Regions from separate parts of the Homo sapiens genome. Here regions 1 and 3 are each linked to region 2. Evidence: fine-mapped expression QTL. A gene starts in region 2. Each other region holds a variant in brackets. All regions are shown on one strand. Distances are between the middles of the regions.

Region 1 (8,184 bases), 160 kb before region 2:
AGTTTTCCAGGAATTATGTTGGAAGAAAAATATCTGTAAAATACATGACTTAGGAATCCCTGGTCCCCTTAGAGTAGCTAAAAGTTATGTTAGCACCATATCATTTTTATGCAATGTTAAATAGTGTTGAATTCCCTAGCTGGGTTTCAGATACATACCCAGGAAGACAACACATCTGTTTCAAATAGAGGTTTGGAATGAACATTTTCATCTTCTCCAATGAATCGAATGAGTTTTTCCTTCTCTGTAGATGTTGAAGGTTGCTAGAACACAGAAACATGCGGACCTGTTAGCAAGCTGGTGTAGCACCCCAGCAAGTTTCCTGGCACGGTAGCAAGTTTCCTGGCACCATGTTGGAAGCTTACATTTTCCATTTCCTTTAATCACACAACAAGAATTTTTGAAGACTTTCACATAGCAAACGCTGTGAAAAACTGGTAGGATGGGGAGTGTGGACAAGGGGATATAACTATGGGAAAAACAAAGAGGATTTCTTCCAGCTTCCAGGAACTGACAGTACTATAGGAGAGATAGATAATAAAATGAATAATTATGGTATAACATGATTACTGTTAGCATAAAAGTGTGCTCCAAGGGCTGTGCACACCCAGAAAAGGGTCATGCCTTCTTCCTAGGTACTTCAGGAATTATTAACAGAGAAAGTGATATTTAAAGGCCGAACAGGTGCTTGTAAAATAGAGAGGACAGGGGCTCAACTAAGTCTACAGGTGGTAGTAGTAATAGCAGTAGTTGCAGTAGTAATGGTTTTGTTACCAGAAAAGGGGTCTTATCCCAGACCCCAAGAGCAGGTTCTTCGATCTCACACAGGATAAAATTCAGGGTGAGTCTCAGAGTATAGTAAAGTAAAAGCAGTTTACTAGAAATTACTCTATTACAGAGTTGGGTATCCTCAGAAAGCAAGAGGAGAAATGCCCTTAACATAAACATAATGCTTGCTTATATAGGATATTAACACTAAGAATAGTGTACTTTATTATAAAGGCTGGTGATCAGCTTGTGACAGGCTATTAGTATTATTATTCTCTAGTGTAACTGTTGACTTCAGCAATAATTTATGAGTATACTGTCAGAGACGTATGAACCAGAAAAACTCCATCTTAAAGAGTAGCTGGGTACAATGAGGCTAAAACCCACTGGGCTGCCTCCCCAGATGGTTAAGGCATTCTAAGTCATAGGATGAGACAAAAGGTCAGCACAAAATACAGGTCATAAAGACCTTGCTGATAAAACAGGTTGCAGTAAAGAAGCCGGTCAAAACCCACCAAAACCACAATGGCCACAAGAGTGACCTCTGGTTGTCCTCACTGCTATACTCCCATCAGCGCCATGACAGTTTACAAATGCCATGGCAATGTCAGGAAGTTACCCTATATGGTCTAAAAAGGGGAGGCATGAATAATCCACCCCTTGTTCAGCATATCATCAAGAAAATGGGCAACCAGCAGCCCTTAAGGCTACTCTGTCTATGGAGTAGCTGTTCTTTTATTCTTTTACTTTCTTAATAAACTTGCTTTCACTTTGGACTGCAAACTCGCTCTGAATTCTTTCTTGTGCAAGATCCAAGAATCCTCTCCTGGGCTCTGAATCATGACACCTTTCCTGTAACAGTACCATTATCTTTAAAGTGAAACCCATTTTTAAACTGAGAATGCCTTTTTCCATTAACTCGTTTCCTCAACCATAAACATCTTGTGACTAAGAGTGTCCAATTTCCTGGGAAAGTAACCCAGTAGGTTTTGCTTTATCTGGACTTTATTCAAGATGGAGTCACTCTGGTTAAGACACCTCTGACAATTTCCATTTATTCTGTGCCTTCTACATACCAAGCACTTTACCAGAAATAAAACAGAAAATGCTGATTGAAATAGGCTTGGGTGTTATATAATATTTTTGTTCTGTTGTCCTGCCTGTGCAGTGAGTAGAAGACCTATTTCAGAGCCTGGAGTCATGCCAACACTTAAACTATATACAGAGAAGAAATATATCAAAGAAGTAAATCAAGACATTGTAGAGAGTGTTAGGCAATCATGAGTTCTAGGAAGCCAAAGGCAGTAGTAGTCAATCTAAGAATTAGCAAGGGGTCTTGTGCCAGACTTAACTGGGTTTGAATATCGGTTCTGCCACTTACAGCTATATGATTTTGAGTAAATCAGTCAACCTCTCTGAGCTTCAGTTTTCTTATCTGTAAAATGGGGGCAATAATATAAACCTTGAAGTTGTGTTGCATAGATAAGAGATAATATGTGCAAAGTATATCACTCATGATAGGCACTCAATTTTTGGTAATCATCGTATTATTATTATTATTACAAATGTCCCAGGAAGGGTTTTTATTACTACAAATGCCCCTGCGGGGGTTGAGACGGGGTAAAGAGAGGAGAGGTCTGGTGATGGGCCTGGGAGGAGGGCAAAAGGCAGCTCAGAATGGGAGCTGAAGAAGTAGAAATATGGAGTTTTAAAGTGTTATCTGAAAAAATGTGGCAATGAAGGGCTAAAAAAATAGTACCAGAGTGAGAAGTAGATTGTGTAGTTAATAGGAATAAAAGTATAAATGAGGCTAATGGGAAATGGCTGGATTTAGAAGGGAAAAGGAACATTCCCTTCCTCTGAAAATAAAGTGACAAAGATAAATATTTCTGCAGGTTTGGCTAAATCTATATGAGGAAAAGAAGGAAACTGGAGTTCACTCCAGACCACCTACTTCTATTCTCCACTGTCTGTGTGTGTCTATAATTTTCCCCCCACTATATATGTCTGTGTATATATATATATATGGTCCAAGCATGGTGGCTCATATCTGTAATCCCAGCACTTTAGGAGGCTGAGGTAAGAGGATCGCTTGAGACCAGTTCAAGACCAGCCTGGGCATAGCAAGATCCCATCTCTATAAAAAAAATTTTAAAAATTAGCTAGGCATGGTGGTGCATGCCTGTAGTCCTAGCTACTCAAGAGGCTGAGGCAGGAGGATCATTTGAGCCCCAGAGTTCGAGGTTACAGTGAGCTATGATGATACCACAGCACTCCAACCTGGGTGACAGGGCAGGACCCTGTCTCTAAAATATATGTATGTATGTATGTATGTATGTATGTAGGAGGAAAAACAAATACCAAATAATCTTACTTCTTCTGCTCTCTCTTTATTTTCCTCCTGAAGTTTCCTATCCTCCTTACTTTCTTCTTCATCTTCTTTAAAAGACTCGTCTATTTCAGGCTCAATGAATTCTTTTACAGCCTCCTGTGAGATGAACCAATATTATGATTAAAGGGTGTATATAAATATTAGCAATTATTTGTTCAAAATATTTAATGAGCACTAATCCTGCAGCTGGGTACTGTGCTAGTGACAAGGATACAAAGGTTGATAAGAATAGTCCCTGTCCTTAAGAAACTTATTAATTTCACGGACAAGAAAATACAATGAATGCATACATTCACATAGTAGGAGCACCTAATTTAGACCAGGTAGTGGACTGGGTAAAAGAGGGAGTTGGTTAGGAAGGTTTCCTGAAGGAGATAATGTTTGAGTTTTTTTCTTGAAGGATGGGGAAGGAAAAGAAGCAGCTCTGGGCAGAGGATGTTCCATGCACATGATTGGATCTGAGAGAGCATAGTTCAATAGGACAAAAACTGGGAGACAAATGAATAGGAGTGCAATCAGAGAGAAAGGGCTAGACTGTCAAGCCAGGGAGATGATTGGCTCTTATCCTGAAGGCAATGAGGCTCTAATAAATTGGTTGATTTGCTTTGCATTTCAAAACAATCATTCTAGCAACAGGAGAATAGCTTTAAAGAAGAGGAAGAAAGGGAAGCAGAGGAAGAGAAAAGGAGCGTGAACAAAACAGTGGCTG[C/T]GGGAATGAAGAGAAGGAAAAGGAGGATTTAAGAGATATTTAAGAGGCAAGTCCTAGTGATTGACTGGATGGACACGGGATGGTTAGAGAAAATGTGCATCTTGAATGACACTTAGTTTACAGTTTAGACCACTAGAGAGATGACAATGCCATTCACAGAGACAATGAACAAAACTGGATAAATAGGTTTGGAGAGAGAGATGAGTTCAGATTAGGCTGTGAGAGTTGGAGGTACCACTGAGATACCCAAGTGAAAATACCCAGCAAGAAGGTGAATATATGGATCTGGAGTTTAAGATGGAAGAATTTGGGCTAAAAATAGAGATCTGACAGTCATCTGCCTTTAATTAAAGCCAAGAAAGTAAATTATATCCTAAAGGCAAACTTGTGAAGTAGCCAGAGAATTAGACAGTAACCCAGTTACATAAAATGCTAGGGATCTATGGAAAACAGTGTAGTGATTCCTTAAAGAACTAAAAGTAGATCTACCATTTGATCCAGCAATCCCACTCCTGGGTATCTACCCAGAGAAAAAGCAGTCATTATATGAAAAAGATAATTTTACATGCATGTTTATAGCAGCACAATTCACAATTGCAAAAATATGGAACCAGCCCAAATGCCCATCAATCAATGAGTGAATAAAGAAAATGTGGTATATATACACCATGGAATACCACTCAGCCATAAAAAGGAATGAAATAATGGCATTTGGAGACTGTTATTCTAAGTAAAGTAACTCAGGAATGGAAAACCAAATATTGTACGTTCTCACTCATAAGTGGGAGCTAAGCTATGAGGATGCAAAGCCATAAGAATGATACAATGGACTTTGGGGATTCAGGGGAAAAGGGTGGGAGGTGAGGAGGGATAAAAGACTACACATTGGGTACAGTGTACACTGCTTGGGTAATGGGTGCACCAAAATCTGAGAAATTATCACTAAAGAACTTACTCATGTAACCAACTATGACCTGTTCCCCAAAAACCTATTGGGAAAAAAAAAGGAATGATGTTCTGATGCAGGCAACAATGTGGCTGACCTCTGAAAACACTATGCTAAGGGAAATAAGCACAAAAGGCCACATATTATATAATTCCATTTACATGACATGTCCAGAATAGGCAAATCCATAGAGCCAGAAACCGTGTGGTGTTTCCAGGGCCTGAGAAGAAAGGGGAAATTTGAGTGACTGCTAACCAGTATGGATTTTCTTTTTGGGAATGATTAAAATGTTCTGGAATTCAATAGTGATTATCACTGTACAACTTTGTGAATATACCACAAACTATTACTGAATTGTACATATTACATGAATTGTGTCTCAATAAAGCTGTTATTTTTAGAAAAATAATTTGGCCACTCCACATTGTACACATACTTCAAAACATCATGTTGTACACAATAAATATATACAATTTTTATTTGTCAATTAAAATAAATAAATAGGAAATTGCTGCCTCAAAAAAAAAAAAACAAAAACAATCAGATGAAATCAAAAGCCTATACTCAAGGAAAACAATAATAGATTTTCAAACCTCTGAAAAAAATAAAATGCTAGGGAAGAAAGAGGAGCCTGAAAAGGCAGCCAGAAGTAGCCTCTGAAGTATGAGAGGCCACGAGGAAAGCCAAAAGAGAAGAAAGAAGGAGTCATCAGTATTGAACACCTCAAAGGAGTCTACTCATATAGATTTAAAAACATCCTCTGGGTGTTTACAGCAGCAATATTTATAAAAGCAAAAGCTAGCAATAAGCTCAATGCCCACAATAGGAAAATGCACAAATAAATTATGGTGTAAGCCATATAACAAAATACTTTATAGCAATGTTAAATTATGCTATAGAAATATGTGTACAGTATAGAAAAATAGTCACAATGTGACTAAAAAATTAGGATATTTTTACAAAATGAAAATACTTTTTTTCTTGATAACATTCTTGCTATAAAATATTTGAACACTACAGAGGAATTAAGAATCTTAACTCTCAGAGTTAACAATTTTTATCATTTGCTGAATATTCTGCTAGACTGCTTTTTGCATCTATAAACATTTTAATATAAATGAGATAATATATCTTATATTCTATAATCTGCTTTTCTCAATAATATATCATGGATTATATTTATTTAACTACTTAAACATCTACTTTATCTGCATAGAATTCCATTATTTCAATGTACCATGTTGTATTTAACTAATCTCCTACTGATCAACATTCATATTGTTTCTAGTATTTTGCTATTATACTATGCTGTAATAAACATTCTTATACAGATACATCATATATTAGAATTATCAAACAGACTACAAAAGTTATACTTAACCTATTTAAAGAAATAAGAGATTGAAAATATGAGCAAAGACAGAAAGATTACAAAAATGATGAGACTTGAAAAAGAATCAAATAGGACTTCAGCAATTTAATTTAAAAACTCAACAGAAAGGTTTAATGGCAGATGAAATTCAATTGGAGGGCAAATTAGTGAACTGGATAGTAAGCCAGAAAAATTATTCAGGATGCAATGCAGAGAAATAGAGAGAGAATATGAAAGAAGGTTAAGAGACATGGGGGATTGATTCCAACACACATTCATTTAGAGTTCTAGAAGGAAAGAAGAGAGCAAATGCAGTAGAGGCAATATTTGAATAGATGACTGAGAATTTTCCAGATCTAACAAAAGATACCAAATTAAAGATTCAGGAAATCAAGAGAATCCCAAGCAAAATTTAAAAGAAAAGAAAATCCATCTCCACATTAATCAGAGCAAAGACAAAAAGACGACCTTAAAAATAGAGAGAAGAGATGAATTCACTTCAAAGGAACTGACAGCTGGATTCTCAATGGTCAGTTCAATAACAACAAAATCCAGAAAACAGTAAAAATAATAACGATGTGCTGAGAGAAAAGAATACCATCCCAGAATCAATAGCATACCCAGCAAAAAAAAAAAAAAAAAAATGTAAGAATGAGGGTGAAATAAAGGCATTTTCAGACAAACAAAAACTGAGTTTGCCACCAGGATATCTTCACTAAAGAAAATTCTACAGGTTAAGGTAGAAGACAAATGACCCAAGGTGGATATCTGAGACTTTTGAAGAAAGAACAAATAAATTAAATTATAAATCAGCTCCAATGCCAGCATATTTCTTAAAGGTAAATCACTAAAGGCATTCCTGCTAAAGTCAGAAACAAGAAAAGGATGCTTGTTATCTCCACTACTATTTAATATTGAATTAGAAGAATTATTCAATATAATTAAAAAAGAAAAAGCAACTAGAAGTATCAGAATTGAAAAGAAAGAGGTAAAACTATCCCTATTTGTAGGTGATTTGATTAAGTATCTAGAAAACCCCAAAGAATCCACTGAAAAACTACTAAAAACAGTAAGAGGAAGAGCAGCAGGAGGAGGAGAGAGAAATACAGTAAGAGAATTTAGTAAAGTCACAGCATATAAAATTAAAATAGGAATGGTGGTGAACATCTGTAAGCCCAGCACTTTGGGAGGCTGAGGCAGGAGGATCACTTGAGCCCAGGAATTCAAGCCAGCCTAGGCAACATAGCAAGACCCTGTCTCTGCGAAATTAAAAATTAGCCAGGCATGGTGCCACGCACCTATAATCCCACATAGTCCGGAGGCTGAGGTGGGAGGACTTCTTGAGCACAGGAAGTCAAGGCTGCAGTGAACCATAACTGGACCGCTGAACTCCAGCCTGGGTGACAGAGTATGATCCAATCTCAAAAAATAAAACAAAATTAAATTAAATTAAATTAAAATACAGAAATTGATTATATATATATAGTCTGTATATATATAATATATATAAATATGCTGTATATATATATAACTGTATATATATATACAGTTACTAGTTAGAAGATATAATGGAAAAGAATGTCTCATTTAAAATAGCAAAAAATAAAATATTCAGGCATAAACCTAATAAGAAACGTACAAAATAAGCAAACAAATAAGATATGATTTAAAGGCATAAAAGTAGACATCCTATATTCCATATTCTTGGATAATACAATTCAGCATCATAAACATGTCTACTCTAAGTTAATATATAAATTTAATATTATGCTAGTTTTAAAAAATCTTATTTTTAAGAACTAGCTTATAAAGTTATATAGAAAAATAGCCAGGTGCAGTGGTGCATGCCATAGTCCCAGCTACTCTGGAGGCTGAGGCAGGAGGATCACTTAAGCCCAGGAGTTTGAGACCAGCCGAGGCAACATCAAGACCCTGTCTCTAAAAAATAAATAAATAAATAAAAGGAAGAATAAGTAAGCAAGAATAGCAATGAAATG
Region 2 (8,184 bases):
AAGACATACACACAGATAAAAGGAGCACTAAAGGCATTCTGCCTGTTGGATCTTGTCCCTTTTACTAGGGTACAACAGGGAATAGGAGAGTATAGGGACAAGTATACAAAGGCATGCAAAAAGCAAATTTAAACCAAAAATATGTAAAGCCAGCACCTATTTCCATCCTACTGATAATAATCACACACAAAAAGATGGTCTTTGGCCCTTCTGGATTGTATTCTGATTCAAAGATACTGTAAATTTTATCATCTATGATTCAGTGATTTTTCTAATTCTGCCCCTCCCAAGGTAATCATTCAAAATGAGAAAACAACTCTATTTATCAGCATCTATCCTACTATCTTCCTTCTTTACCTTCCAGCTCCTGTGAGGGAGACGGGATGGTCAATCAGGTATTTGAATTTATTCCTTCGAACAGGGTGATGCCAGACATGGTCTACAAGGCGTGGAAGAGTGCCCTGGGAAAAAGCAAATACACATGAATATCCAGCAGAGGGCGATCTAATCAAATAAAATGTATTAATAGTTTTGAGTAAGTACTGTATTTACATTAAGGGCACTTGGGTACTCTAAGGAAAAAAGAGAGCAGAATTCTTATTAAATGACATAAAGACTAAAACTAGAATAATTCTATAGTGAGTGAAAAACATTAAGGGTAGCAATTATCATTTTAGTAAATCCACATAAAAACAGGTCAATGGAAATACTCAAGCCTTGGAAACAATTTATACAAAAGACTGGAGTTTTCAATCTAAGAAATTATTTTAAATTTTTTTTTTTTGAGACAGAGTCTTGCTCTGTGGTCCAGGCTGGAGGGCAATGGCGCAATCTCGGCTCACTGCAACCTCTGCCTCCCGGGTTCAAGTGATTCTCCTGCCTCAGCCTCCCGAGTAGCTGGGACTATAGGCGCATGCCACTATGCCCAGCTAATTTTTGTATTTTTAGTAGAGACAGGGTTTCATGATGTTGGCCAGGATGGTTGATCTCCTGACCTCGTGATCTGCCTGCCTCAGCCTCCCAAAGTGCTGGGATTACAGCCTAAAAAAATTTTTTAAGGCCAGGCATGTTGGCTCACACTTGAAATTCCAGCACTTTGGGAGGCTAAGGCGGGTGGATTGCTTGAGCCCAGGAATTTGAGACCAGCATAGGCAACATGGCGAAACTCCGTCTCTATGAAAAATACAAAAATTAGCCAGGTGTGGTGGCACAGACCTGTAGTCCCAGCTACTCAGGAAGCTGAGGTGGGAGGATCACCTGAGCCAGGGTAGTCGAGGCTGCAGTGAGCAATGATCAGGCCACTACTCTCCAGCCTGGGCCACAGTAGTAAGACCCTGTCTCAATCAATCTTAAAATTTTTAAGGCTATCTGGAATATATAATATGTGCATAATAAATACTTAAAGAATAATCAGATGCCCAAAAAATAATGTTCCCCATTACTCTACATATGTACATACAAACCTTTGGGGTTTTAATTTTCTTAGGAGGTAGTAAGTTTTCAGGACAAGGACCAGCATTGGCCGCATAGGTCAGAGAAAGAAGAACTTCTTTGGGAATGAACTCATTCTGAAGGGAAGTAGGAAGGAGTTTTGAACGATCCACCATATTTTTTTTCTCCTTTAGCTCAGGAAGTCCTAAGTAAGTAGTGGAAAAGAAAAACTCTTACTATATATTTTTTTAAGTTAGATGGAGCTTCTCAGACTGCCTCATCAATCCCATCTGTTTCTAACAGAGAGAAACATTGCTTCTATTTGACAAAGATAGTAACAAATAATATTGAAAACAGTGAACATCATCTAGTCAAGGAAAATAACATTCATCTTGCCTACCCTACTCACATTACATCAGACACAGTTTCAAAAACTCAGGTACCAAGATGAACCTGCATGATTCTCAATTCAAAGTTGAAAACTAAACTCATTTCACTTGCTCAGGTAACTGGGAGAGCCTTAAGAAGACAGGAATGAATGTCTATTTTCCCTTTCATATGAAAATCACAAATCTCTCCCCCCAAGCTGTCAAATTATTTAGTAATTTTTTTCTTACATGAATTCAAAGGTGAGAATAATTGCATTAAATCGAGGCATTTATAGAGTGGAAAGGCTCTGGGTTGGGCTTAAAAGTAAAGATGGAACTGGGATTGTTGCAAATGAGAGTGGAACAATCTGAGCTGACAAATCTGTGGAATGGGAACTGTAAAAAGAGTGTTCTACCCTGCTTGACTAGGGCAGGGGAGTAATAAAGGCAGGTAGTTGGGATAATGTAGGAAAAGCCCTCCTATGAAGTCAGTCAGGTAGGGTTGAGTTGTTATTCTTCTTAATCTATGCCTGTAACATGGTATGGTTTATGTTTATTTCTATAAGGAGGTATCATGCTTTGATTACTATCAAAAGTTGTTAGGGTTTACATTACCAAATCTCCTGAGAGCTTGAGATCAAAAGAAACAGAAGAAAAAAAAAAAAGTTGGGTGGGGCTTGGGGTTTTAGTACAAGGTGCAGGTGAGATGGGAAAAGCTTTAACAGAACCGGGTAAGGATAACACTAGCTGACTCTAGTACAGATCCGCATATGAACGAAAATCTTAAGGAATTGCTCTCATTTAGAAAAATTACTAAAAGCTAATACAAATTGGCACATTGTACTAAATTGAGTTTCTCTTATCTCTGCTATTACTTTTTGTTTCTTTATTTACTTATTTGAGACCAAGTCTACCTCTGTTGCCCAGGCTAGAGTGCAGTGGCAAGATCTTGGCTCACTGCAACCTCTGCCTCCCGGGTTCAAGTGATTCTCCTGCCTCAGCCTGCCGAGTAGCTGGGATTACAGGCGAGTGCCACCACACCAGGCTAAATTTTGTATTTTTAGTAGAGACCGGGTTTCACCACGTTGGTCAGGCTGGTCTCAAACTCCTGACCTCGTGATTTGAGACGGAGTCTCGTTCTGTCGCCAGGCTGGAGTGCAGTGGCGCAATCTCGGCTCACTGCAACCTCCACCTCCCGGGTTCAAGCGATTCTCCTGCCTCAGCCTCCTGAGTAGCTGGGACTACAGGCACGAGCCACCACGCCCCCCCTAATTTTTGTATTTTTAGTAGACAGAGTTTCTCCATGTTGGCCAGAATGGTCTCAATCTCTTGACCTCGTGATCCGCCAGCCTCAGCCTCCCAAATGGGATTACAGGTGTGAGCCACTGTGCCCGGCCTATTTATTTATTTATTTTGAGATGGGGTCTTGCTCTTGTCTCCCAGACTGGAATGCAATGGCTCGATCCTGGCTCACTGCAACCTCACCTCCTGGGTTCAAGCGATTCTCTTGCCTCAGCCTCCAGAGTAAGCTGGGACTACAGGCGCGAGCCACCATGCCCGGCTAATTTTTGTATTTCTAGTAGAGACGGGATTTCATCATATTTGGCCAGGCTGGTCTCGAACTCCTGACCTCAAGTGATCCGCCCACCTCGGCCTCCCAAAGTGCTGGGATTACAGGCGTGAGCCACCGCGCCCTGCCTCACTATTACTTTTTCCAAAGTTCCTTAAAGCCAAAGACCAGGAACCAAAAAATACGTAACTATTGATATTTAAAATAGGTTGAATTTAAAATCATATATAAATCAACATTTGAAAAAAAGTATAAACTGTATTTAGATGGAGTAGTGAAACAGTACTCTGACTCAAAATACTGTAAAAGGAATGACTTCTTGCTTTATTTAAGCAAGTGTGTTAGAAAAATGTAGCCAATCAAGGTATTCTGAATATCAGATTTAAAAAACCGGTGAATGGAAGGTGATTTCTGTCTTACGGCCATGACTGTTTATGACTTCAGAATCAACGAAGTTTACCTCTTGTCCCTTCCTTGGCTACAGACACTTTTAACTTTTTGCTCTCAGATGTTGATGTAGAGTTTAGCGGGGTGGAGGGCGTTTTCGGGAGAGACATAATAAACAATGCCTCCTATCTCTTTAGTAATTTGAAATAGTCCTCCGGAAAGCTAATTTAGACACAAATCAGCGCCGCACTGGGACTTGCAGGCTGCCACATAGTCCTGCAGGCAGAGGAAAAAAGATTTAAAAAAAAAAAAAAAGATGACAACTATTGAGTACTTAGGTTCAGATCGCAGTTTAGAATTCATCTAGCATGGTTCTCCTTCTTCGGGGCGACCTCTATGTTCTGGGGTTATGTGTAGCGACTAAGAAGCCTTAGTGGACCGTCAGGTCGGGGTCAAGGAGCAGGGCAGGAAGGACCCGCTCGGCGGACCCCGCAGACCGCCGGCACCCCTGGTGGGGGACACTCGCTGCAGGCGGCTCGGCTGGGGACCATACCTTCCCCACAGGCAGCGCTCTCGCGCGCCAGTTCCACAAACTCGCGAGTTGGGCAGGCCTCGCACTGCTTCTTGGTTTAAAATGACGGGAAAGGGACACCCGCGATCCTACCCACACATTGCGTACCCGCCCAGCATCCGCTCACTTCCTCCTTTGCTGGAACGCCTGTTTGTCGTCATAGAAACCCAGGGCCCCGAGGTTTAGCGCCCTCCATAGGGGCTGCCTTCAGCGGTGCCGGCGGAGGAGGGAGACAGCTAAGACAATCCCTACACCCTCTTGGAGTTTCTTATGTTCTAAGTCACAGCATAGGTTCAGTAGCAAAGGAGAAGAAAAACGTTTAATCCCGCCGTTGTCACGGAATCCGAAAGTGTCTCACGCCGGGGCTTCCTGCCGCGGGCCAGGCCAGTGCGCAGGCGCCGGTGGGGGTTAGCTCGAGGGGCCGACCCCTGTAGCCCGTGACGCACGCGGGTTAAGCAAGGGTCTTCTGAGTTGTTTCCATCTTTCTAGCTCTCTTTTTTGTTGCTTTGCATATTTTTCTTTCTCTTTCTTCCTCTTTTTCTTTCTTTCTCTTTTTTTCCCCTGAGACGGAATTTCCCTCTTGTCGCCCAGGCTGGAGTTTAATGGTGCGATCTCGGCTCACTGCAACCTCCACCTCCTGGGTTCAAGCAATTCTCCTGCCTCAGCCTCCCAAGCAGCTGGGACTACAGGCAGACGCCACCATGCCCGGCTAATTTTGTAGTTTGTTTTTTGTTTTGTTTTGTTTGAGACGGAGTCTCGTTCTGTCGCGCTGGCTGGAGTGCAATGGTGCGATCTCAGCTCACTGCCACCTCCGCCTCCCAGGTTCAAGCGATTCTCCTGCCTCAGCCTCCCGAGGGACTACAGGCGGGGGCCACCATGCCCGGCTAATTTTTGTATTTTTAGTAGAGACGGGGTTTCACCATATTGGCCAGGCTGGTCTCAAACTCCTGACCGCGCCCGCCTCGGCCTTCCAAAGTGCTGGGATCATAGGCGTGAGCCACTGCGCCCGGACGCTTTGCATATTTTTCTAAAAGCCAGACTCAGGGGGATGTTGGGTAATAAGAAACGCTGGGTCCCTTATTGGGTAAGCCGTCCAGTGCTTTACATTTCGGTCACGTCTTCCTTGGACCCTTAAATGCCTCCCCCCAGAGCACAAGGAAGGCCTCCTGGGCCCAGATTTTTCACCCCCTTGGGGCAGGGAAGGAGGATTGAGCTTAGGTGGAACCAGCTCAGGTATAATTGTCGGGGCTTCTGGCGTGAAAATCTGCCCTCAGGAAAGAATACCATCAGCGGCCGGTGGCTCACGCCTGTAATCCCAGCACTTTCTTAGGCCGAGGCGGGTGGATCACGAGGTCAGGAGTTCGAGACCAGCCTGACCAACATGGTGAAACCCCGTCTCTACTAAAAACACAAAAATTAGCCAAGAGAGGTGGCGCGCGCCTGTAATCCCAGCTACTCAGGAGGTTGAAGCAGGAGATTCGCTTGAACCGGGGAGGAAAGGGTTGCGGTGAGCCGAGATGGCGCCACCGCACTCCAGCCTGGGCAACAGAACGAGACTCCGTCTCAAAAAAAAAAAGAGTATCATCAGAGCCTTCGCACTGAACTGAGGCTCGGTTCGGTGAGGGATCATTTCTTTTCTTTTCTTTTTTGAGACGGAGTTTCACTCTTGTTGCCCAGGCTGGAGTGCAATGGCTCGATCTCGGCTCACCGCAACCTCCGCCTCCCAGGTTCAAGCGATTCTCCTGCCTCAGCCTCCCTAGTAGCTGGGATTACAGGCATGCGCCACCACGCCCAGCTAAATTTGTGTTTTTAGTAGAGACGGGGTTTCTCCATGTTGGTCAGGCTGGTCTCGAACTCCCGACCTCAGGTGATCCACCCGCCGCGGCCTCCCAAAGTGCCGGGATTACAGGCATGAGCCGGATCGTTTCATATTAAGGCAGAGATTTAGTGCCAAATAATGAATCGCTGGGAGAAGCCCAGCGTCTAGTTGCTTCCAGACAGGGAGGAAACTTTATCTTATTCAATCACCATATTCCTTAGCACCAAGTAGAGTGCCTGGACAAACATGAAAATCAGTTGGACAGTTCTCTTCTGTGTTGACAGAATTACGGCTATTTTCTGGTTTTGAGTGTAATAGCTGTGAGAAATTCGAGCAAAGGGTTCAAAACAAGTCTACATGGTCCCTTTGAACTCTTCCGATCAAACATGTTGGGTGTGTTAGCATTTTAGCCTTTAGCCTTATCTCCCATTACCCTAATTTTTCAAAGAATTAAAATACACATAATAGCATTATAGAGCACACAAAATTATCCATCTTTTGTATTCTTAACCTAGTTCAAAAAAATCCAAGTACAGTATTAAGAAAGCAGATAGAAATAAGTGAACACATTCTAGAAAAACACATAAAGTATAATCTAAAGGATTTAGGAAGTGATTAGATCTGTGAGACATCAAAGGTCTCTTTTCTGTCTTGTGCTGTGGTATGGTGATCATACATAATGTCAGAGGAGTTTGAACCATAGCAACTCCATCTTGAATAGGCACTGGGTAAAATAAGGCTGAAACCTACTTGGCTGCGTTCCCAGATGGTTAAGGCATTCTAAGTCACAGGATGAGATAGCAAGTCATAAAGACCTTGCTGATAAAACAGGTCGCAGTAAAGAAGCCGGCTAAAACCCACCAAAACCTAGATGGCCACGAGAGTGACCTCTGGCCGTCCTCACTGCTATACTCCCACCAGCGCCATGACAGTTTACAAATACCATGGGAATGTCGGGAAGTTACCCTTTATGGTCTGAAAAGGGGAAGAATGAATAATCCACCCCTTGTTTAGCATATCATCAAGAAATAACCATAAAAATGGGTAACCAGCAACCCTCAGGGCTGCTCTATGGAGTAGCCATTCTTTTTTTCTTTATTTTCCTAATAAACTTGCTTTGCACTGTGGACTCGCCCTGAATTCTTTCTTGTGCAAGATCTAAAAACTCTCTCTTGGGGTCTGAATCTGAACCCCATTTCCTGTAACAATACAATTTACTAAGACTGGAAACAAAGGAGGAAGACCAGATTTGGAGGAGGGCTTTGGAGAAGGATACGTTTAGGACTGTGGATATATTAAGTTTGCAGTAAGATTGAGATATCTGGATGGGAATGAAAAGTAACTATTTGATTATACATTAATACATGGGTATGAAGCTCTCGGCAAAGGCCTACGTTAAAGTTGAACGGATGAGGCAGGGCGTGGTGGCTCATGCCTGTAATCCCAGCACTTTGGGAGGCTGAGGTGGGCAGATCATTTGAGGTCAGATAGAGACCAGCCTGATCAACATGGTGAAACCCTGTCTCTACCAAATACAAATACCAAATACAAAAATTAGCCTGGCCTGGTGGCACATGCCTGTAGTCCCAGCTACTCAGGAGGCTGAGGCAGGAGAATCGCTTGAACCCGGGAGGTGGAGGTTGCAGCACCATCGCACTCCATTCTGGGCGACAAGAGTGAAACTCCCTCTCAAAAAAAAAAAAAAAGTTGGATGAATGGCTGGGTGTGGTGGCTCAAGCCGGAGTCATCCCAGCACTTTGAGAGGCTTAGGCTAGAGGATGGCTTGAGGCCAGGAATTCGAGACCAGCTTGGACAACGTGGCAAGACCCCATCTCTACAAAACAAAAAGAAAAAAGTTAATAGATGAGGCATAAACAAAAACAATACAATAAGACTATAACTATCAAAAAATACAATTGCTACTTATAAGGTAACTCCTCTCCTAATTTTTAATTATACCAAGAGAATCCTAAAATGGAGTAAAGTAAAATACTATTAAGGTCTTTGATGGAAAATACCATAGCAAAATGTAAGCTGA
Region 3 (8,184 bases), 850 kb after region 2:
GGCTTTGAATGAAGGTTTTTAATCTCCAGTGGAGGCCTGGGGTTGGGGTGGTATTTAACAGGACAAGAAGCCCTGACTGTGCATCTTAAGGAGCTTGGAGGTGATGAATCGGAACTGCTGGTAGGTTCTGCAGCTGCGCTAGGTTGGAAACACATATTCGATGTCACCGGGGTTGAGGTACAGATAAATCAGAAGGCAGCTCCAGAAGCCAAGGGTGAAAAGGGTGCCCAGACCTGGTGTGAATATTTCCCACTGGATGGGGAGAAAGGGCAGGACCTGAGGCAAGGTCAGTTCCGCCACTAGTGGTGCACCCTCCCCACCATGGGAGCCCCAGGCAGCAGCCTCTAGGCTGGGTGACCCAAGTCCTCCTTCCTGGTGCCACATCCTGTATGACTGAGCATGCTGGGTGGCAGCATCTGCTAACAGTCCCTACTCCTGGCACAACCTCAGGAGGGGTGTGATGTGAATGCGGCTGGGAGCACATGGCCTTGGGGACAACAAGGCACCTGATCGAGAAAAGGCACATCTTGTATGAATCTACCTACCCCGATTGTAGTTGTTCTTTAGAGCACACAACAAACATTTCTCCTGCAGAGGACAGAAACGGCACAAGAAAGATCAATTTCCCCTGGTCCAAGAAGGGCAGCCTGCTAGGCACCTTATCTGCCCTTGCTAAAGGGAAGGACAGAATAAGAGGGTGGAGCTGGCGGGTAGGCCCATCCAGGGTCAAGTCCTGCATGGTCACAGCTAAGGAGGCTCCACAGGCCTAGAAGGCAAGGCAGGTCAGGGAGGGCGCAGGCTCGGGCGGCACCCAGAAGTCAGCAGCGGGCGGACCTGTCCCTTCACTATGATACAGCACAAGCTCGGGGAAGTCACCAGGGAGCCGGAGCCAGGGGTCTGGCACCAGTGCTGGGCTCGGGCAGGGTTTCACTTACGCAGCAGGTCCCACAGTGATGAAGGGGATCCAGTGAGCCCTGTTTTGTTTTTTGTGGTGCCATCGTCTTCTTGTGAAGAGCACAGGGTGCTCCATTGACTCCACTGGCTCCATCCATTTTCTTGGGCCTGAGCTGTGGTTCTCTGTGAGTCTTTCCCATCAGCCTGAGTTCCTGCTGCTCCTTTGGTGCTCTTCTAAGGGGACTGGGGGAGGAGGGCCAGGGAGGGGCAGAGAGTTGGGGAGACATTTTGCAGCATGACAAGGAGATAACCAGTACACGGGTGGCCATGGAAGGCCTTGACTCCAAGTCACAGGGGCAGTAGGAGCAAAGACAACTCCTCCAAGAGTCTGGGTGTCCTCTGAACCCCAAAGGGATCCAACAAAGGGAAGGGAGGAGACCCTTTAGGGATGAGGAGAGACGAGTGCAGGTTACACTTACAGCTTATAGTTCTTCTGTGTATTTATTAAAATGTCCATCTTCTCATCCATATCTTTCTGCATTTCCTTCGAGAGAGAATTCAGAACTAGCATCTTCATTTTGAAGGACTTTGGAAATACCTTCCTCCTGCCTCTCTGCAAACCATTCTGCATCTTACTTCCTCAAGAATCCTCGCTAGACTTGGGTGAGGTGGCTTTTGGAGTGTCCGTGACATGTACAGCTTCTCCCCTTCCTCATCCCCCTTCCCCAATGAGACGAAAGCACAGGCAGAGACATTAGGGGACTTTTCTGAAGTCTCTAGGTGAGCCAGAGGCCAGCTACTGTTTTATCTGATCTCACACTTTGGATAAAACCAATGCTTGCCTTGGTTTGATGCCTATAAAATGATGGAACCAAGAAGACCAATCTTGTGACCCCAAAGACAATTTGACTGCAATGTTTTGACCCTTGGCATGCACCCAGATCCTGCATATTTATGTTTGCTTCATCTTTTACCTAATTCCTGGCAAAGATGGTCAACAAAAAGTAAAATGACAGCAGCTAAAGGGATACATCACACGTATTATTCGCTCAGAACAGAAGGAATAATAAAATCTTGACAAAGTTTTGATCTATAAAATGTGACCTGGGTAAATTGAATGGAAATAGTGGACATGAGAAAAATTCTAAGATGGTAGAAGCTATAACTGACAATATTTGTCACAGAGAAAAACAGGTTTGGGTTGTCATAAAACAGAAATAAAAACAATTTATTCCAATAAAATAATTTTCATTAAAAATGAAAGATTTGGTAACAGTTTAATTGATGTACTATAGAAAATTGATCAAGAAATTACACCATCTGCATAGAGATGATTTCATAAAATACCTTCTTGAAAAGCATTTTTAAATGTTAGTACAAATTTGAATAAAATATTTGTATTCATAGAGTCAAAATATCCTTGAAGTCAATGTCCCCTAGGTCCAAAACATCAGAGTCAAAATGTCCCATATTCTTACACGTTTCACCAACATGTACCCCTTCAAAATCATCATGTTCCAAACTGATTTCATTTTCCCAAGCTACCTCTATCTCCCCACTGTCATTGTCATCGTCACCACTTTCTTTTAATCAACCAGATTAAAATTTGGTGTCATCACGGACGCTTGCCTCTCAAGACTTCAGTCTCCATATTGAATCAGTCACCAGGAACTGTTATTTTTCCCTCAGTGCATCTTTCAGATTTATCTCTTCCTTCTTTCCCTACACCTGGTCCAGCTGTGGTGTTCTTGCTGTCAGACATCTCCACCTGCTCCCTGGGCCCCACCCAGGCCGCCTTGCAAACAAAACCTGCCGGGCTAAGCTTTTTGAAGTGCTCCTCCCAGAATGTTCTTTGATTAAGAATCTCCAGAGGCCTCTTGCTGCTCACAGAACCAAGTCCTAGCTTGTCTGCATGTCTTTCAAAAGCCATCATTACCTACAGCCTTTGTGCCCATTCATTTTTTTTTTCCCTCACAGTTTCCCCCAGTGGTCCCACTTCATGACTGATCCCCGTGCTGACCACCATATACAACATACTCCTCCTGCCTCCTGCCCTGCTTAAGGGGTTCCCCTGCCTGAAATCGCCTCCTTTGTGCCTTTCCATACCCAGCCTCCCCACCAACAAAACACTTAACTTTGTTTGGATTTTAACAGAGAAATAATTAATGCATGCCCTTTGTAGAAAATTTGGACAGTACAGAGGGATATAAAAGTATGAATATTCTCATCCAGAAATAACTGCTATGAACCCCTTTGGTATATTTCTTTCCAGTCTTTTTTCTATATATTTGCTTATTTTTTTTAACCTAGCTGAGATCAGCCTATGTATATTACTTGT[A/G]TCTTGCTTTTTTAGTTCTTATTATAAATATTCTTTCTAAACATTGTCTTTAATAGTTCCTAACTTTTATTATATAAGTATTTCATAATTTATTTGGCCATTCCCCTACTGTTGAAAATTGAGGTCGTTTCCAAATTTTTATTATTACAAATAATCCTGTCATGAACATCTTTTTATGTATACCCATGATGGCGTTTCTGATTATTCTCATAGGTTAAATTCTAAGAAGTGAAATTGACAAATCAAGAGGTTGATTTTTTTATATCTATTGTCTAACAATGTTCCAGTTTTGTACAAATTTGCACTCTAATTAACAGTATAAGAGCATTTATATGTCTTATACTGTAATTGTAATAAATTAAAATTTTGCTTGAGTGTAACAATAATTGATTGTTCATTTGCATGTATTTAATTATGAGGTCAGGCCTTTGTTAATATGTTTATTGCTTTTTAGTTATATTCTCTTCTGTGGATTGTCTGTTCACACTCGTCTATTTTCCTACTTAGTTCTTATTGATTTATGTGAACTTTATATGTTATGGATAAAAACCTTTTTTCTGTGCTTATATTTTTGGAAAAATGTTCCCCCAAACAGTTTCTTTAATTCTGTAAATGTAAGTGATTTTTCTGTCATAATTCTTTTAAAAAAATCTTACATAGTTAAATATATCAATATGTCCTTTGTAATTTCTTCCATTGTATTTATATTTAGAACTTCTATTTACATATTTACTTAACATTTCTTCTTATTGGTTTTTATTATTTAAAATCACTTCATAGACTATTTAGCTTTACAGTGTTAACTGGCTTAAGTTTTTTCTTCATATAGTCAAGCAATGTTTCTAATATTACTACCTAATCCTTTCCTTCTGACTGACATCAAAAAATCACCTTTATCATATTGTAAATTCTATAGAGCTGTGATTCTCAACTTGAGTATACACTGGAATCACCTGGGCAACTAAAACCCACTGGCGTCTGGACCTCATTCTAAGAGCTTCTGACTTAATCGTTATGAGGTGTAGCCTGGATGGGGAGGGCATAGGTGAAAGGCTTTCCAGGTGATTATAATGTGCAGCCAAGGTTAGTAACTGCTGCTAAAGTGTTTAGGACCTGGTTCTCATCCACAGGCAAGCATCTGAATCTAAACGGAGTTTTAAGCAACTCCGGCCCACCCTGGAGATTTTTATTCAGTTCCTCTGGGAAAGGGTCTAAGTAAATGGAGTTTTAAAATTCTCACAACTGATTCTCATTACATCCCAGGCAGAGAGGCTGTTGAGGCGTTATCTATCCCATTTCATTCATGTGTTTGGTTATCGTTGGGCTGATTTAATAACTTTGTTTTTATCGTGAATTTTAATATCTGGTAAGGCTAATGTCCCCTTACAACTCTTGAAAAATGGGTACCTATTTGCTTTTGCCAGCTTATGCTTCTCAGTCTTTCCCCTGGGAACTTGTCTAAACTACAAGGGCCCAGCACCATCTGAACATGAGCCCAGGCTCTGTTTTATTAGTGTTCCAGGTGATTCTGAAACACACCACATGTTGTCAATCACTGCTCTAGAATCTAGATCATCCTAGTAATTTTTTGAGTTAAAAAAGAATCTTACTGGGCTCTTGATGAGATTTGCATTAAGCTTCCCATGCAGTCTTCAAGGCTCAACTTGAGACTCACTTTCTCTGTAAGGACTTCGCTGCTTACTCCAACCCGCATTCATTTCTCATGTCTCTAAGCCCCTAACTAGCAAACAACGAATTAATTATTTGGCTTGCAATGCTTTCTTGCAATGGAATATGGGACTACTAGTAGATAATAAGCTCCTGGAGGGCAGGGTCTGCTGGTGTCTCTTCCACAGTTTCCAGTATGGTACTGGCCCATGGAAGGCACTCAAGTAATGCTTACCTTCATAATTTCCACAAATTCGTGAAGTTTATCAAAATCCTTGTCCATTAGATCCTTTATCTAACAAGGAAGAAAGGCATGGCTTGACAAAGCACAGAGCATGTTATTGAGGTTAGTTGTGGCATCTTTCAGGCATTTTAAGCAAAGGGCAGTGGCTGCTTCTCTGGCATGGACTAATAATGGCCTGTTAGAGCCACTTTCTTCTCAAGGAGTCTGTGAAGGGACTAGGGTGCAAGCACCATCAAGTCACCACCACCATCAGCCTTGGCACGGCTTAGATCTGGCTACTGCAAGACTGCATGTGGAGCTTGAACCACAGCTTCGATTACACTTTCTTGCTCGATTATTCGCTTTTTTCCTAAGGATGCTACAGGTGGTTGGTTGGTTGTATCATAGAAATGAGAGGTTTCCTGCTTTGCAACTTGCTCAGGGGAAGTGAATAAGGAAGATGGGGTTGGTCCCTGACTTCCCCTAAATTCATATTCCAAATCAGCCCCTCTTACTCAGCTTCATCACTAAGGTGACATCACCCACCCTTACCAAAGAGACACTTTAGGGAGTCCTCAGTCACTCAAAAATTGGGTTTAGGCATCAAACAAGTAAGAAGTGAATAACCTAATACTGAAGTGCTCTGGGTATTAGGACTGAGTTACATTTTTCCATGCAATTCCTGCTTTCCTTCACTATTCAAACTTAAGGATTGCATTTTTCCTGAAGCTACACTTTCCCTCCATGATATGGAAGGCCTCATCTTCTTACCTGTTTTATCTCCTCCATTTTCTCCTTGAGCTCTTCTCTCACTTCCCTGAGTTCATTCTGAGGAAATAAAATGGAGAAGAGAAGGAGGAAAGAAATATCTAGGATGGAGGGGAAACCATCAACAGGAGGAAAGGAAAGATCCTGGGACACTGTCAGAGAAAAGCTTTCAATAGGGAGGAAAGAAAAGATGTTGTTGAGACAATAGGATAGACCAGGTGCACTGGCTCACACCTGTAATCCCAGCACTTTGGGAGGCCAAGGCGGGAGGATCACTTGAAACAAGGAGTTTGAAACCAGCCTGGGCAACATAGCGAGACCCCCACCCCCATCTCAAAATTAATTAATTAATTAATGTTTTAAAAAGACTATAAGATAGTGGGACCTACAGGCATCATGTGTCTCTGCCAAAAAATGCACAGCCTGAATCTCATCATGAGGAATCCAACAGACAAAGCCAAATTGAGGGTTATCCCACAACATAAGTGATCTGTAATCTGTAAAAATGTCAATGTCCCCAGACGAGGTGCAGTGGCTCAAACCTGTAATCCCAGCACTTCAGGAGGCCAAGGCAGACAGATCAGCTGAGGTCAGGAGTTCAAAACCAATATGGTGAAACCCTGTGTCTACTAAAAATACAAAAATTAGCTGGGCATGGTGGTGCACGCCTATAGTCCCAGATACTCGGGAGGCTGAGGCAGGAGAATTGCTTGAACTTGGGAGTTGGAGGTTGCAGTGAGCCTAGATCATGCCACTGCACTCCAGCCTGGGCGACAGAGGGAGACCTTGTCTCAAAAAATAAAATAAAAATAAATAAATGTCAGTGTACCCAAAGAAAAAGAACTGTTCTGTTCCAGATTATAGAAAAGACACCTGGTAATTCGAGGCAATGTGTGATCCTGGATCAGACCCTAGACCAGAAAACGTCCCCTTTCTGTTGTTATGCAACACATGTGTGGGACAACTGGTGAAATTAGAACAAGGGCTATAGATGAGTATTGTCTGTGTGTTAACTTCTGGATTTTGATAATTGCACTGTGCCTATGTAAGAGGATATTCTTGTATTTAGGAAACAGGCACTGAGGATTTGGGGAAAACTTACACTCACGTGGTTTGGAATATAGACATGCCTCCAAGTTCACGCACTCACCTTTAGGTCCTGTGTCACTCCTGCTTTGGTAAACCGCCCTTCTTGTTTAACTGCTTTGTAATCAAATGTCTGTGGATTGAAACAGGAACACAGACCTTTGGGAATTGCAGATGGGCGGTGGAAGTGCAGAGGCAGAAGAGATCCCCCTGTGTTTCTGTTCCTCCCTTAGGGCTAAGGCAAGAGGAAAGCTGGTGGCCCCACCTGTGCAGAAGGTTCCTCTATCCTCCTCCCTCTTTCAGCTCATCTTGTTCCACTCCCCTGCTGGCCCACGGGGCCTCAGCTCCTTTTGTCCCTTGAACAGCCAGGCTCATTCCCACCTTGGGCCTCAGTGCATGCTGCCTCCTCTGCCTAGAAGGCTCTTACTCTGCCTTTGCAAAGCCAGAGTCTTGTCCTTCAGCTCTCAGCTCAAAGGAAGGCCTTTCCCTACCACCCACTCCACGGCAGCCACTCAGACATGTCTCCCTGTCTTGATTCCCAGCAGAGCAGGTAACACTGCTGAATGAGTCCTTGTTCGTTTATGTATCTGATTGGTTACAGTGTGAAGTTCTATGAGAGCAAGAACTCTCAGTGCATCCCCCAGCACCTGGGACAAATCTTGGCCACTAGGATCAGCAAATGACCCCTGACTCCTGGTCACTTCCCCATGGATCTCAGGCCTGGCTGCCTGCATGGCCTCAAAAGGGCTTCTTACTTTGGTCGGCTCTGGCTTCAATTCCAGGCAAACTGCCTTGTAGTTCTTGCTCTGCAAAAAGAGGAGACTGAGATTCAGGCTGGCAGACATCAGGATTGGGGAGGAGAACATCTGGCCCTTGCACGGGAACCCTGCCCCCTGCCCCCCACAACCATGCAACCCTGCCTGTCCAACTGGCTTGAGCTCAGGCTCACAGACCCCGCAGCACCCGGATCCGATTCCTAACAAATCACATCTTGTCGTGCTGTCCTCTTCCTATGGGCGTGTGTCTGCCTATTTGGCAGGCAGCCCTCTCCCTGCTGGAGGCGCCAGCGTGGAGAAAGCACTTTAAGATAACTAGAAGCAAGCCCCGGAAGTGTTGTTTCCAGAGCAAGGGCTTTGGCCATAGGCAGATTTGCACTATAGTCTCAGCTGACCTCTCTACTATCTCTGTTATTTTGGGTGAGTTGCTT

Which allele goes with the higher level. Alleles are on the strand shown, and positions count from the first base shown. SD is a standard deviation of normalised expression in the study named.
For the expression in testis of the gene that starts at base 4,465 in region 2, T is the high allele of the variant in region 1 and C is the other (small effect, 0.30 SD a copy in GTEx).
As copies of G replace A in region 3, the expression in hippocampus of the gene that starts at base 4,465 in region 2 goes down (moderate effect, 0.65 SD a copy in GTEx).

Evidence for each region. PIP is the estimated chance that this variant, and not a neighbour inherited with it, causes the effect. A credible set is the group of variants that fine-mapping cannot tell apart.
Region 1: its variant is the best candidate, but not a certain one, in a credible set for the expression of AXDND1 in testis (GTEx, PIP 0.75).
Region 3: its variant is the best candidate, but not a certain one, in a credible set for the expression of AXDND1 in hippocampus (GTEx, PIP 0.69).

The regions. Positions count from the first base shown.
Region 1 is chr1:179,520,406-179,528,589 of GRCh38, reverse strand. AXDND1 (axonemal dynein light chain domain containing 1) reads right to left here. Exons shown (of 26, transcript NM_144696.6): 22 at 3,143-3,256; 23 at 159-263. Among named protein-coding and RNA genes, the nearest start is that of NPHS2, 51 kb to the left of the region's middle. The variant C/T (reference allele first, on the strand shown) is at 3,870.
Region 2 is chr1:179,362,252-179,370,435 of GRCh38, reverse strand. AXDND1 (axonemal dynein light chain domain containing 1) reads right to left here and starts at 4,465. Exons shown (of 26, transcript NM_144696.6): 1 at 4,436-4,465; 2 at 3,830-4,032; 3 at 1,464-1,636; 4 at 358-461. The coding sequence starts at 3,926. RefSeq lists enhancers at 4,065-4,134, 4,515-4,914.
Region 3 is chr1:178,513,626-178,521,809 of GRCh38, reverse strand. It overlaps TEX35 (testis expressed 35), which reads right to left. Exons shown (of 9, transcript NM_032126.5): 2 at 7,733-7,783; 3 at 7,042-7,110; 4 at 5,895-5,951; 5 at 5,136-5,195; 6 at 1,374-1,438; 7 at 936-1,137; 8 at 546-588. Among named protein-coding and RNA genes, the nearest start is that of TEX35, 4.6 kb to the right of the region's middle. The variant A/G (reference allele first, on the strand shown) is at 3,233.